Regions from separate parts of the Homo sapiens genome. Here region 1 is linked to region 2. A link means that fine-mapping ties the variant in region 2 to the expression of a gene that starts in the linked region. Tissue or cell type: tibial nerve. Region 2 holds a variant in brackets; the other region holds the start of a gene. All regions are shown on one strand. Distances are from middle to middle.

What was found. PIP is the estimated chance that this variant, and not a neighbour inherited with it, causes the effect.
Region 1: it holds the start of SH3GL3, and the variant in region 2 is fine-mapped to the expression of SH3GL3 in tibial nerve (GTEx, PIP 0.96).

Annotation. Positions count from the first base shown.
Region 1 is chr15:83,442,954-83,451,057 of GRCh38, reverse strand. It overlaps SH3GL3 (SH3 domain containing GRB2 like 3, endophilin A3), which reads right to left and starts at 3,717. Exons shown (of 9, transcript NM_003027.5): 1 at 3,480-3,717. The coding sequence starts at 3,524. RefSeq lists an enhancer at 3,862-4,021.
Region 2 is chr15:83,506,880-83,514,983 of GRCh38, reverse strand. All of the region lies in intron 1 of SH3GL3 (SH3 domain containing GRB2 like 3, endophilin A3), which reads right to left. Among named protein-coding and RNA genes, the nearest start is that of SH3GL3, 64 kb to the right of the region's middle. The variant G/A (reference allele first, on the strand shown) is at 4,621.

The sequences.
Region 1 (8,104 bases), 64 kb after region 2:
AACACCGCATATTCTCACTCATAGGTGGGAATTGAACAATGAGATCACATGGACACAGGAAGGGGAATAACACACTCTGGAGACTGTGGTGGGGTCGGGGGAGGGGGGAGGGATAGCATTGGGAGATATACCTAATGCTAGATGACACTTTAGTGGGTGCAGCGCACCAGCATGGCACATGTATACATATGTAACTAACCTGCACAATGTGCACATGTACCCTAAAACTTAGAGTATAATAGAAAAAAAAAAATTAAAAAAAAAAAAGAAAATCTATAACCTTAAAAAAAAAAAAAAAGAAAAATATCCCATTTTAATAAAGGATAATGCATATTAGAAAAAAAAAAAAAAAGAAAAATTTGGGTTCTAGTCTCAAACGCTGAAACTTAGAATTAATTAAATTTTTTTGTTAACTTATATTCTTCTCATTTTAGCATATTTCTTCCTCTTTCCTGTTGGTCTCCATGTGCTGCCAAAATGATGCATAATCCCCAGGGTTTACGAGTCTTCATTCTCTGTAAAGTAGGGGTTTTTTCCCAGAGATAGGGAAGGTATCAGGAAAAAAGGAACAGTTAACCGGGTTATAGCTAATTTTACCTCGCTTATCTTTCAGAAAACTATCTCAGTTTGCCATGGTCCTGGATCCCTTCTCTGTAAAAGGTCCACTTTATCATCTTTGTCTTACTCTGAAATGCTTAACTTACTTAAGAATTTCAGCACTGAGATGTATACATACACACACACCCAGAGACACAGAGACATATTCGTATCACTTTATTGAGATATATTTCACATACCATACAATTCTCTTAAAGTGTACAATTCAGTGGTTTTCAGCATATTCACAGAGTTGTGAAACCATTGCCACAATCATTTTTATAACAGAAACATAGCTTCTAAATTCCCTGAGTCATCATACAGATAGAAACCAAGGTCCAGATGGGTTAAGTTATGTTCCCAAGGTTACAGAGCTGGTCAGTGGCTGAGCCAGACCTAGATCCCTGGAAATTATTTTAGCCATTGACATCATCTGGGGCTCCCTTCCCCTGCCCCAGGTAAGTTCTGTATGAATTAAAACCTGCTGTTAAAATGTTGTCTGAGAAAAACATCTGGCATTTTTTATTATTGAGCTCCCTCATATTATATTAAACCGGTCTGATTTCTCCACCAAATTGTTGCATTGCAAGATTTTTTAGAAAGACTTCTAGAACATATTAAAACATATCTACTGAGTACTTTTAACCACAAAACATGGCTATGAAGCCCAGAGAGAATCTGTGATGCCTCTCCTTTCAGGTAAAGTCATAAATTATTTCCGCTCATGCGAAAAAAAAAAAAAAAAAGACTAAATAAGACGTTCTGTTCATTTCATTTTTAATGTACTGATTACAGGTAGTTAAACCAAACTACCCATGACTAGCAAAATATTTCTCCAGTGCCAATAACTTCCAAGGATTTCAACCATTCATTCTGGTTACTGTCAGAAACCAACTTAAATCACCCAAGGGCTTACGTTATCTCTGAGATTTGCTTATCTTTGAGATTTGCCCCTGTGAAGTCCATACCCAATAAAGGAAAAGTTTTCAAAAGAGGAGGTTCATTTCCTGCCAGTGCTAAGGAAGCCAATGTAACAAGTACAGCCAGCGATTACTCTGGCACTGCTCTGCTCTGCTCTGCTCACAGCAGCACTCGGCCTCCTGGCTGTACCAGCTGAGGACACTCCACAATACCTAGCTCACTGAAGCACTTGTTGATTGCTCCTGCCTTTAAATGTCCCCCTTCCATGATGGTCTTCTCTCTCCTGTCATCTACGAGTTCTTTCTTTCCTGTGTTGTGCCACCCCAAAATTTCATCTATTCAATAAATATTTATTGAGTGGTCACTGCTCAACAATTACTGGGCTAAACATTGTCCCTAAATGGGGGTGCTGTCTAGAGTCTGCCTTTAACTCGCTGTGCCTTTTCTCACTTTTGTCTACACATACATTTTTAAATCTCCGCTTAGGCTGGAAATCACCAAAAATCTGTAGCTCCAGTACCAGCCTCACCCCCTGAGCTGCAGGTCAGGATATGCACCCCAACCCAGGCCAGTGACATGTGAATGTCCCAAAGACCCCTCAAAGTCCCTGGGTTCAGTGGTGAATCCATCATCTCCACCCTCACCTGAATAGCCTCTCCTCCAGGGCTCCTTAACACCTTGAATAGCACCACTGTCCACCCAGTGCCCCCAGCTAGAAACAGCATCACCCAGTTTCCATATGGAAAGAGTGTGAGTGAGGGGACAGCAGTGCCTTTCAGCCTGGAACTGGGGCTAGAAGAAGAGAATCTTCTAATTGCAGTTGCTTTCTATGGGCCAATTTGTGGGAGAAGCAGGATGAGACCTCACCACAAATGTGGACGTTGAATGAAATCTGTCTACCCTGGCTCTAGCAAAATGGGGGCTGGGGTTGCGGGGAGAGGTGGTGAGAAGCAACAGACCCAGCGGTGCTGGTGGGGAACAGGTTTTACAACGTGAGCTCTGCCATAGCTGGAAGAGCCTGCAATGTTGATGTTGAAAAACAAATTTGCTTGTCATCAACACACACACACACACACACACACACACACACACACACATCAATTTCATGTCTCCCCTCCTGTTTTCCTGTTTCCTCTGCTCAGAACGGCTTTCCTCCTATCATCCCACACCCTCAGCCATAATTCTTCCTCATACTTAATTCTCAAATGACATGTCTCCTCCTCCGGGAAGCTCTCCCTGACGCCCCCACTGTGTTATTTGTCATCCTCTGTGCGTGGAGGTGTGTCTAGCACTGTTTGTTTACGTGTCTGTCTCCGTGTCTCCCCTGCAGGCTGTCAGCTCTGTAAGAGCAGAAGCGTGATGCCCAGCCCCGGGCCGACACCGGGAAGACGGTGGGGAGGGGAAGGACCGCGGTAGAGAGCCCCAGCCGGGGAGCCGGGCACAGTCCAGACGGGGCCATTTCGATGCGCGCGCGGGGAGCTCAGCGGGACACAGCCAAGCGCCAAATACACAGCATCTCTGGAGGCGCCGGTGGCCGGTGGAGGATGGGCCCCCCACGAGGCTCTCCCAACCAAACGGCTGGAGACTCGGGGGAGGCCCTGCCGGCATCGTACTCCCTGTGGTCGTCCTCCCCTCGCGCGGGTAGGGGCCCCCCCACGCCCACTCCGTCTCCGCCTCCCGAGTCCCCGCGGCCGCCACCTCTGCCCTCCGCTCCGCAGAATCTCTCCGATTTACAACGGCCCAGGGCAGAGCCGGGGGCCAGGGAATGGGAAGGAGAAGGCGCCAAGACGCCGAGGAGAGAGCAGGCGGCCCCTCACCCCACCCTCGCGCCCTCCTAGGCGGGAAGAAATTGAGCCCCGAGAGAGGCCCTTCAGGGAACAGGAGTCCCAAAGGCCCGGGAGCCTCGGGGGGCCGCAGCCTCCGCGTCCCCCTCCCTCCTTCCCTCCTCTGCGCCTCCCTACCTGGCTGGCTTTGTGGAACTGCTTCTTCAGCCCGGCCACCGACATCGCGACTGCGACCGGCAGGGGCGGGGTGGTCTCAAGGCTCGGCTGGGCCACGCGGCCGCGACGCGCTCGGGGAGCGGGAGCCCGGGCCGGTCCCCCCGCGGCTGGGCTCCGCCGGGCCCGCCTCCCACGGCCACGGCCACAGCCACAGCCGCTGTCACACTCGCACACACGCGCGCACGCCGATGGCAACACTGCGTTCCAAAGCCCCTGCGCAGCCCATTGGCCAAGCCGCGGCGATATGCAAATGAAGCTGCTGGGGCCGCCCACGCTTCATTGTTGCGTGGAGACCTGGGCTACTTGAGCCGCGCAGAAGACCGGCCTGGGAAGCTGGGCGTGGGGATGTCCTGGGGGTCGGGGGAGTACAGTCACACAGTGCTTCTTGCTGGGCGCGGGACGATATAGATCTAGCTCTGAGATTGTCATGGGTACCGGGAGAGAGATCAGTTCTCTCTGCTTCTGTCTTGGTGCCGAACCGGCTTTGGCTCACAGGCAACATCGCCTCCCTCCGGCGCATTTTCGCTCGGTGTATGTTTAAGAAAGGAAGGCTCAGAAATGCGCCTAGGGAGGGACAACAAATGCAACTCGATGGGGGACCTGTGGTAGGAGGAAGCGGTCTGTGGGTGGCGGGCTTTCTTCTCTCTCCACGCGGTGCTCTGGGTGCAATCTGCTCAAATGATTTTGGTCTTCTGGGAGCCCTAGAGTTATGGAGTAATTTACTAATAAATACGGTGCTAGCTCACTTGGTGCTCTGAGCCCGCTGTCAACGGCACTAAAAGCAACCATCTCCAAGGTGCCATAAAGAGCTCGTTGCATATCCGGCGGAGTCCACCAGACCAGGAACCCAGCTCTCTCGGTAACCCCTACCAGCTGTGTCAGTTACAGAGTGTCCATTTGCACAGAGTCCAGAGGTCGACGCACTCACAGCTAAGCCCAGCCAGGGACATGGAGCATTGCGTTAACCTCGTGTTAGAGCTATCCCCAAAAGGTACAGCATCTTCGCTGAATCTGGCTTCCAAAGGTCCCGAGGATTCCCAAACCTAGAATATATGTTTGGCAACGCTTCACACTGAAAAACAAAAACATTTCCCACCTTCAGTCTCTTTTTGGGCCCTTAGCAGGTCCCATCTGGGGTGACGAGCAGTCCCTGTCTGCCCTGGACACTTCGGGTATATGCCTGTGCCCTGGTGTCCACCTGCCATAACATTTCTCCAGGACAAAAGTCATGCAGTTCCTCCCCTAGCTGTTAGCTCCCAGCGCCCAGTCGGGGCTAGTCCTAACCCTGACTTCATCCTAGTGAGGACTGGGCAAGTAAGTACACACCTCTCTGGGCCTTGGTTTCCTCACTTCTACTTGAAGCATGTAGACTGGAATAAACAGTGTTCCTCCTCTGATACTGGGGAAAAAATGCTTGAACTTAGTGGAGATCGTGGGATAAGGGCAGCCAGTCAGAGGGTTAATGAGCATGACTTGGGTGAGTGTTGTGGGCTTACCTGCCTGACACCAGCCACTGATAGATAACTAAAAAGTGTGAGGGTGGTGACAGCTGGGTCAGAATGGCGTAGCAAGATGACCTGTCCATACAACAGTTCAAATGCCTCTCAACAGTGGGCTTCACCGCAGGCCAACCACTACATAAGGCAGAGAGCCAGCTGCAGCTGGAGTCCAGGATTGGCAGGTCTCTCTTGTCCTAGGCTATTCAGGGCTGCTCAGCTTCCTCTTTCTCCATGCTCCAGAGAGGTTTAAATAGCACCGGTTCTATGGTACCTCCCCCTAGACCAATCCGGCTCTGTGCCCTTTGGGAGGAGGGGGGTGCTTTTTTTTCAAACAGTTTATTGGCATTTCCTCCACAGTCGTTAGTACATTCAAGTTTCTCACTTCAGTTGATTTTGGTAATTTATCTCCTTCATTAATCAAGTATAGAGTTGAAGATCATACTTTTTAAACTTCAGAATCTTTCATATACATTTTCTCCTTTGTAAAAGTTTTTGTGATTTGTCTTAATTTTTTCAGTGAATAGATTTATTGGAGGTTTGCTGATTTTATTGGTCTTTCAAAATATTTTTGAAGGTACTCATCATTGCTACAGATTTTTCTCTCTCATTGATTTTTCTTTCATTATTCTTACACATTCCTTCCTTCACTTTTGTTCAGAAGACTAGTGAGAGTTTGAGGGTTTTAACAATAGAAACTGACTCTAGCTAACATAAGCTGGAAAATATGTATTGGAGAAGGATGTCAGGCAGCCTGGAGATTCACAGGAGGGGTGTAGGGAACAAGGTGGAGGGGATGAGCAGGAATTAGGAATCTGAGCACTGAGATCCACAGGGTGTCCAGGAACAGCTTGATTGGGATATGCTGGCTCTGCCACTGAGCCCTGGCCATGGCTACCAGAATGAAGGCTGCCCTTTCAGGCAGTCACTCCAGCTGCATAGTAGCAAGGGCAGCATCTGATTGGTGGATTCACTCCATGGCAGATTTCCCTACTATAGGAGGAAGCTTCAGAGGTTAGGCAGCCAAATTTTATATATATATATATTATATCATATATTATATATATATAATATATACATTCTTTAATATATACCATGTTAGAGAATATATAATATATATTAGAGAATATATATAAAAATAATATATATAAGCAACAACAAATGCCCATTAAAGTGTATTTGGGTATCCTTAATCTCATGTCTTTTATTTATTTTTATAAAACTATAAATTTTCCTCCTGAGTATGGCTTTGGTTTCATACCTTGTTTTCATGAATGATATGGATCTCCTATTTTCTAAATAAAACTTGTCATTACAGTTTTGAGTTCCTCTTTGATCCAAATGTTATTCAGGATAATTTTTTAAAAAGCTTTTCTAGGCTGGGCATGGTGGCTCACGCCTATAATCCCAGCACGTTGGGAAGCCGAGGCAGGCAGATCACGAGGTCAGGAGAGCGAGACCATCCTGGCTAACACGGTGAAACCCCATCTCTACTAAAAAGTACAAAAAATTAGCCAGGCGTGGTGGCGGGCACCTGTAATCCCAGCTACTCGGGAGGCTGAGGCAGGAGAATGGCATGAACCTGGGAGGCGGAGCTTGCAGTGCGCCAAGATCGCACCACTGCACTCCAGCCTGGGCGACAGAGTGAGACTCAGTCTCAAAAATAAAAAAAATTAAAAAAATTAGCTGGTCATGGTGGTGCATGCCTGTAGTCCCAGCTACTCTGGAGGCAGAGGCAGGAGAATCACTTGAACTCAGGAGGTGGTGGTTGCAGTGAGCCAAGATGGTGCCACTGCCCTCTAGCCTGGGCGACAGAGTGAGACTCTGTTTAAAAAAAAAAAAAAAAAAAAAAAAACCTTTTCTAGGTGGTTTGATTTTTTAAAATTTATTCTATGTTAAATTCTAGACTTGTGATACTATCGTCAAATAACATGTCTTGAAAGGTTTTTTTTAAACATAGCCTGTCATGTTTCATTGTAAACACATATCATAGAGGTTTGAAATACTGTTCATTTTGTGTTTCTAATGTACAGTTTTTTAGTTCATCTGTAACAAGAGTGTGTATTCTACACAGCTTCTAGCTCAGAGGAAGATTTCCAACTCATGCTAGCTAGAGCCCCCTTGGCCAGCTCAAGGCTTTCCCCTTCACGTCACCATCACCCTTCAATCACTAAGGGCCCACAGCTCCTCTGTTTAGGGAAGGGGGGTACAAGTGTATACAAGTGTCCTGGACTGTTTGACAGATTTGTCTACATATGGAATGAAATTGATGGGGACTGGGAAGTGTCCTGAGGCACTGACACACATCCCTCTGAACTGAAGGATTTTTGGGCATTTGGTGGTCTTCACAAGTCAATGACAAGAGGGACACTGTGGTTGTCTCTGGCACTCTGCCAGATGGCCCATGTTCTGGCAGAGGTTTCAGTGTTCTCTTAAGCTCTTTTTCTTTTTTTCTTTTCTTTTTTTTGGAGATGGAGTCTCGCTCTGTCGCCCAGGCTGGAATGAGGTGGCACAAACTTGGCTCACTGCAACCTCCACCTCCTGGGTTCAGGTGATTCTCCTGCCTCAGCCTCCCAAGTAGCTGAGACTACAGGCATGCACCACCATGCCCAGCTAATTTTTTTTTTGTATTTTAGTAGAGACGGGGTTTTCCGGAGCTGAGGCAATCAGCCCACCTCAGCTTCCCAAAGTGCTGGGATTACAGGCGTGAACCACTGCTCCTGGCCTATGCTCTTTTTCTTGTGGCCTTTGACTCACCTCCAGGCCAGCTTTTGAGTCTAATGAGTATTTGCATTCCTTGTGTCTGGTTCTGTAGCAAGTGACTCATATCTATCTGGGGGGCATTGTTGGGGGGCAGAAGAATTCTGGGTAGGGGTTAGAAGGGGAGGGAAGCATGCTTATTAATGTTCAAAATATCCCATCATATATCTCATAAATCAGGTATGAGCATGTTCAAATGCTCTGTGTTCCAATATTTTTCTTTTTTTTTTTTTTTTTTTTTTTTTGAGATGGAGTCTCGCTCTTTCGCCCAGGCTGGAGTGCAGTTGCGCTATCTCGGTTCACTGCAAGCTCTGCCTCCTGGGTTCACAC
Region 2 (8,104 bases):
ATTCCTTGGACCCTGATCTCTCCTTCACATCACTCCAATCTCTTGCTTCCATCCTCGCATTGCCTTCTCATATAAGTTATCACTCACAGGTCCTAGGGATTAGGACATGGACATCTTGGCGGTGAGGGGAATTTCCCAGCCTGACACGCCCAACAAGCAGAAGTCTGACCTATGACAGCTGCGAATAAGAGGAACCCACTTCTCCTTTGCTTAAATGTCAAGGGGTCAAAAGGTGCTCACAAACACCTGCCTCAAATGCAGTTTCTGTGTGAATGGATCCTAAACTGCCAAGCACTACCATTTATGCCTATAGATAGAGAAACACAACTTTTTTGCAATCATATCATCCTTTTAAACTGGGTAAGAATTCAAAGAATTTGCTTTTGCTTTTCAAAAAAACTTATTTTGAAATAATGTCTGGTTTACAGAGAAGTTGCAAGCATATGACAAAGAATTCCCCAATGCTACAAAGAATGCTCCAATAGACTTCGCCAGATTCCCTCAATTTTATCTCATTTATTTTATCAATTTTCTCTGTCTCTCTTTTGCTCCCTCCAACCCACCCTTTCCACCCTCTCTCTCTCTCTCCCTCCACTAAATCATTTTGAGAACAAATTGTGGATATGATGCCCCTTTTTCCCATAAACATTTCATTGTGTATTTCCAGTGCAACTTAGCTTCTAAGTGGGTTTGGAAAACAGAGGGCTGAATTGCCAGTGGGAAAAGTTTTTCAAGGGAGATGTTCTTCTTTAGGTCTGGAAATCCAAAGGAGACAAGTCCTTGTTCTGGAAAGTGGGGAGTGTCACATCTCATTATATTGCAAAAAATTATTTTTCACATAATATTATGCCAAACTCTAGGCACTGAGATTTTTGCCCTTGAGCCACTGATGAGCAAGTACTTATAATACACAATCTCTACCCATCCACTACAGGGAAGCTCAGTGAAACTAGCTACTGAACAGCACAGATGGAAAGAACAAAGCATGGAAAAAATCCTCATGGACTAGTTGTTTCTCCTTGTCTTTTCTATGTCCTAACCTAAAGTGAATTGAAACTCACTCTAGGATAAGAGCTATGCCATAGCTATCAGTGTTCTGCAATTTGTGTATATCCCATAAGCATTCATTTATGATGATTAGTCATTTATGATGATCATCCATTTACGATCCTTATTCATTTATGATTTTCTGCTCAGGTTGCTCTTGGGTTAGATGAAAAAATTCCATTCAGCAAAGATTTATTGAGCACCTACCATGCCCTGGGTAGAGTGGGAAGTAGAAATGAATGGAGGGTCATGATTTAGTGGGAGAGACAGATGCATCAACCACAAAGAGCAAAGCAGCATGAAGTACAGTCTGCGGTGGAGCATGAGGGAAGTGTTCTCAGTGGTAGAAAAGACTTTCTAAAGGAAGGAGGGCAGGGATGATGCCTTGAAGCAGCATTTGGGAAGTCTAGGAGAGGGTCAAGGGTTTTCCCAGATGAAAGAGAAGCCTGAGCCGAGGCACCACAGGATGCAGATGTCCAGCACGTCTAGGGACAGAGGGTGACACATCCAGTGTGGCTCAACAGTGGAGGGTTTGAGTGGAGTTGGGGCCTGAAAAGGAGGTGGAATAAGATCATGAAACCTCTTGACACCATGCCTTATCTTTCCATGGCCTTTATTCTGTAGCTACAGTTGAACTTTCAGAAAACAAATTTCCTTTTCATAGCCAAGTAATTAACATCCCACAAGTTAAATGCTCAAAACCTTGACCTCGTTCTAGCTCGATTAAAAAACTTCTCAAAGACCCTTCCAATCCCACGCCTCTCAGCTCCATGCTGTGATTAATGCATCACTAGTGGAAGGTAGGGCGGGAAAGTCATTGCAAATACACACAGCGGAAAAATACAGATTCACAGCAGGAAAAGTACAACTTTTGTGCAAAGCTGACCCAGACCATCTCATTATGCAGTCGTTGAAACCTGTCTGAAAAGGAGTATGTGGATTTGTCATGAGACCTATGTAAATATATTTCCAAAAGATTATTTTCAAATGGCTCTAAAGTTTAGAAGGAAAAAGAAAGAGATAACCTTTTTAAAATGTGGGAAGCAGGAACAATATTGCTGGCAGCTTATTCATCTAGTTAATGAGTACTCTAAGGGGTCCATGCAGAATAGCACCTCATCCGGAGGAAGCTGATAGGGAGAGGGAGGGAGGGAGGTGGCAGCCAGGCAAAGGTGGGGAAAACAGAGCGCTGACTACATTGAGAGTCTTGGAGGGGATGGAGGAGTAGGGAGGCCAGGGAGGCAGGGACGGGGAGGAAGGAAGAGAGAAGGAGGAGGGTGGAGGTTAGGGAGCGATGATGCTGCCCTACCACCACTCTGGCGCCTTTTGTTTGGCTCCCTTACAGGGGCAGACACAAAGAGGACCTTTCCAATTCTAATGTGCAGGAAAGCCCAATCTGAGAACCAGGAGTAGCTTTTCTGACACCAGGAGCAAAGAAAGCAGCGCGCTTCCAGGCTGTGACTGCCGCACAAAAGCAAATTCTTTGGGAATACCACAGGCACTTAAGAGACTTCTCACCCTAGGAGTAGTTTCGAAATGAAAACTACCCAGACCTTGCAGCAGCCAAGAATTAAACTGATATTAAATAAACGTGGAGTTGTTAAGGCAAATGAAAAGAGTATTAAGCACATTTTTGTCTTAATTGACTTAAACATCTTACACTATCAAGGAGCAAAATGGCAATGCATCTGTGTTACAGAAAAGCGATCTCACCCTCAGTCCCACCAAGACCTTGGCAATAAGAGTTCCAGAAGAATTAAAAAGTCACCCATTAATGGATAGAAGCAGGGATGGGGTCAAGTCTCCTTAAATAGCAGGTGGCATTTATCCCCCTTGAGAGGACCTGTCAAGGCCCCCCTTACCTTCTGAGGTGAGCTAGGTCTGAAGACCCTTGTCAATGCGAAACTCCCACTGCAGTGAGTTTATAGTGCTGACATGGTGCAAAAACTCATGGAGAGTGACTGTCCATCCAAGGCCTGGCTCCTTTTAGGTCCAGTATTGTTCCAAGTGTCAAACTCCCCTCTTACCCGGTATCCTGAAAGCTTGTGCAGCACTAAGTCCTGATACCATCCTAGCCCTGTCCAGGGTGGGGATGGTAGCAGGAAATGCCCAGGAAGCATGGTAAATGTCAAGGGTGTGGCTTCCTGGGAGCCAAGATGTACTGGGTGAGGGAACCAGCAGGTGCGCGGTACACTGGGAGAGAGAAAAGAGAGAAAATTGGAAATGTGATCCTGGAGACAAAGCAGCTGACTGAGATGCTGTAGAGCCCAAGAGAAATAGGAGTTTCTAGACTTTTAGATTTCATAAGCAGTAAATACCCGTAGTAGTAGTAATAGTGATTATTATTATTACCGTATACAAAGTGTTTTCAACTTTTTTCATTTCCCCAGGAAAGGACACAACCTTTTGAACTATTGCTGCTGTTTTCATTTTAAAAAGGAACTTTTAATACTAAAATTATAGGAAGAACATAATATCTGACGTCACGTAAATTCAGATTTGAAGGAAATTTACTTTTTTTCCTTATTTGTTCTTATTTTTTCTCATTTTGTTAAGAACCAGCGAACACTTTGAAGAAAGCCAAAAGTTTACATCTGGAGCTGGAGGGTTCTGTGACTGCACACCAGGCACTCTGCCAGCCCTACTTCTGCCTGTAGTCCTGCAGGTCACTTGCCAGAGGTGGTACTTTCTGCAAAGGGAAAAGCCTAAGGCACCATCATGGGGGTCCCAGGACCTACAGCATTCCTTTATTTAATCCGTTCTTCCGATTGGCCAACTTTCTTTTTTTTATTATTATTATACTTTAAGTTCTAGGGTACATGTGCACAACGTGCAGCTTTGTTACATATGTATACATGTGCCATGTTGGTGTGCTGCAACCATTAACTTGTCATTTACATTAGGTATATCTCCTAATGCTATCCCGCCCCCCTCTCCCCACCCCACAACAGACCCTGGTGTGTGATGTTCCCCACCCTGTGTCCAAGTGTTCTCATTGTTCAATTCCCACCTATGAGTGAGAACATCTGAGTGGCCAGCTTTCTTTTGGGAAAGCCCGAATGCCATACCCCTGCTTGGCGGTGGATATGCTCTAAGCAGTCCTTTGCAAACCCAGAGAAAGGATTAACTGATTGCCTTCCTTTTTCCACTTTGGCTGCCAGGAAGCTCAACATCAAATCTGAGGATCCACATAGCTGCTTCATGGACCCTTTTACATGTATATTGACACATAAATACACTCACACATGCCTCTACAAGCTTTGACTTTTCCATAAAATATTTATATTTTCTCTGATCATGATTTATGACTGTTATTTACATTGTATTTTTAATTTTTTGCAAGCTGCTTCAAATCTTATGTGGGACAAGGGAATAAATAACAACTTTTTAAAATTAGGACTATAGAATTTTGCTAAAGCAATTCATTGACAGGCAATGTCTGTGGCAAACACAATGTCTTTACATAATAAACAAACTGCAAAGCAAAAATTATTTAGGCCACTAGGTTAGACATTAGATTCCAAACTTATATAAGCAAAGCTAATTTTTCCCCCGAAATATGTAATATAGTGG[G/A]CCATCAGCTTAATTTAAAATTCACACAGCTTCCAAACAATAAGAGGCACTTTTCTCTTCCATGAACAAAGACGTTTTATTCATACATGAATAAAGCAAAGATTCTTTCTATTGTATCTACATGAAGCAATCCTGCATTTCTATACAAAATGAGGTATTTTGCACCAGGCAGAGCTATATTACAGAGTTGCTGTGCATTCTGGATGAAGTTGTCTGATGATGGCACAAGCATTGAATAACAAAAAGTACTTTGTATCAGCAAAAAAAAAAAAGAATCCTTAAGCCTTCCATGACACTCTCTTCTGTTTTTCCCTCAGCACAAGGCATTGATGGGTGAACACATACATTAATATATTCGCTTCGAATCTAGCACTGGGCATGCTCCCTAAAGGATGGCAAAAGTGTGTGGGCCCAAAGTGAAAGGACTAAATCAAAGAAATGAACTCCACACCAAACATATTTGCGCAGTGTTTTGGTTTAATTTTTCCAAGGGTATAATTTAAAATAGGCTTTGTGAAACTGGTGGGGGTGAGGGCAGGATTCTCTTCAAGGTGATTGTAAACTCTTTCAAGGCAGTAACCGGGTAATTTATACTTATTCTACAGTTAAATTCCTGAATTATTCATATTTCTGAATAATTAGGGAGGCGTCATAAAAATAGCATACTCTTTAAAGATCTTTGCCCTCTTCCTTTCTCCAGAAGTTTAAATCATCTTCTTAAAAGGGTAAATACAGTTCTTGTATCAGGAACCAGTACTGACCAACCTGGTAAATTTAACAGAAACCAGCATTTATCACACCAATAAAACTGGATTTGACATATGAAGTCTTAACCTGAAAACGAAGTTCTTCCTTTCTCCCACTATTGAGCAATAAATTACCGAGAAGTTCTGGTCTACTAAATAGTTAGGAAGAAGTGAGGTTGCAGAAAATATAAACCAGTTTAAAGCCAGAAAGCCACAGCAACCATTTAGAAGCAAACACGAACTTACGAGCTTCCTTCATCATAGTAGTCCTTGTCTATCCCCAGCCTCCGGTCCTCTCCAAAGTTGGTGGGACATCCAAGAACGCGCTCCCCAGATTCTGCCCTCACTCCGTGAGATGAGGCAGGGCATGCCTGCCCATTCCTCCCCTCCACGGCAGGTCAGCCTTCATTCCCCATCTTCTTTATCCAGGACAAGGCTTGACCAAAATGGCCTGTTCCAAAGGCAATTCCCCTGCTCTCACTTTTCTGTCCCATCACTTTCTCAAGAAAAATATGTATTTTTTAAATGTGTAGTTTCTTAATGCACGCTAAAATGCCCGATGTAGGTAAAAACATTCATTCCATAAGCCTTACCAATTGCTCAATGCACAGTAAGATCCTAGGTGAGGAGCGTTACAATCGCCTCTAATCAGTCTCCCTGCTTCTACCCCGGCCCCTCTAAAATCTATTCTCAAAGGAGCAACCAGAATGATCTTTTAAAAATGTAAGCCCAGCAGTGGCTCACGCCTGTAATCCGAGCCCTTTGGGAGGCTGAAGCAAGCGGATCACGAGGTCAGGAGATCAAGACCATCCTGGCCAACATGATGGTGGCCAACCAGATGGTGAAACCCCATCTCTACTAAAAATACAAATATTAAGTGGGTGTGGTGGCACCTGCCTGTAATCCCAGCTACTTGGGAGGCTGAGGCACGAGAATCGCTTGAACCCAGAAGGCAGAGGTTGCAGTGAGCTGAGATCGTGCCACTGCACTCCAGCCTGGCAACAGAGCGAGACTCCATCTCAAAAGAAAAAAAAAAGTAAGCCCATCTTGTCCCTACAATATTCCAGAACTCTGCAATGGCTCCTCTCTTCACTCAGTGTCAGTCTTTACACTAAGGCCCCATACAAACATCTGTCCCCTACTCTATCCCTCCCTAACCAACCTTGACTCCCTCACTCACTGCACTCCAGCCACACCCCTCCATGATCCTCGAACACCTCCAGCGTGTTTCTAAGGCCTTTGCACAGGCTTTCCCCTCTGCCAAGCATGCTTTTCCAGCAGATATCTACATAGCCGGCGTCCTTACCTCCAAGTCTTCGTTTAAATGTCCCCCTCTCAATGAGACCTATGGTGACCACGGTATTTAAAATTGTGCCTGGGCTGGGCACGGTGGCTCAAGCCTGTAATCCCAGCACTTTGGGAGGCTGAGGCAAGCAGATCACGAGGTCAGGAGATCGAGACCATCCTAGCCAACATGGTGAAACCCCGTCTCTACTAAAAATACAAAAATTAGCTGGGCGTGGTGGTGCGCACCTGTAGTCCCAGCTACTCCGGAGGCTGAGGCAGGAGAATCCCTTGAACCCGGGAGGTGGAGGTTGCAGTGAGCCAAGATCGCACCACTGCACTCCAGCCTGGTGACAGAGCAAGACTCCGTCTCAATCAATCAATAAATAAAATAAAGTAAAATAAAATAAAATTCTGCCTGGATCCCATATCCCACCTCTAGAACCCTTGATCCATTTTCTTTTTCTCCAAAGTAGTTACCGTATAATATACTCATTTTGAGCTTACCATATGATATACATGGATTTTGCTCATAGATATATTCCAAGCACCTAGAAATGTGTCTGGTACACAGTGGGTGGGCACTGAATAAATATTTTTTCAATAAATAAATGAATGAGGCCAGGCGCGGTGGCTCACTCCTGTAATCCCAGCACTTTTGGAAGCCAGGGCAGGCAGATCACCTGAGGTCAGGAGTTCAAGACCAGCCTGGCCAACATGGTGAAACCCCATCTCTACTAAAACTACAAAAATTAGCCAGGCGTGGTGACATGCACCTGTAATCCCAGCTACTCGGGAGGCAGAGGCAGGAGAATCACTTGAACCCAGGAGGCAGGGTTGCAGTGAGCTGAGATCATGCCACTTCACTCTAGCCTGGGCGACAGAGCGAGACTCTCTCTCAAAAAAAAAATAATAATAATAATAAAGGAATGAATACCTGGAAGATCCAAGATGAATCACTAAAAAAGTAATTAAAACCAACAAAAGATATCAGTAAAGATCATTCATTAAAAAGAAGTGTACACAGGCCGGGCACGGTGGCTCACGCCTGTAATCCCAACACTTTGGGAGGTCGAGGTGGGCGGATCACAAGGTCAGGAGATCGAGACCATCCTGGTTAACACGGTGAAACCCTGTCTCTACTAAAAAAATACAAAAAAATTAGCCAGGCATGGTGGTGGGCGCCTGTAGTCCCAGCTACTTGGGAGGCTGAGGCAGGAGAATGGCATGAACCCGGGAGGCAGAGCTTGCAGTGAGCGGAGATCGTGCCACTGCACTCCAGCCTGGGTGACAGAGCAAGACTCCGTCTCAAAAAAAAAAGCGTACACAAAAACAGGGTTTCAAACCTCAGTAACAACCAATCAGGAAATTTTTTTTTTTTTTAGCAAAAGAGAATGATTTCTATAAACAAAACCTGTTACGGTAAACAGATGGGGCAGAGCTGCGATGCTCCC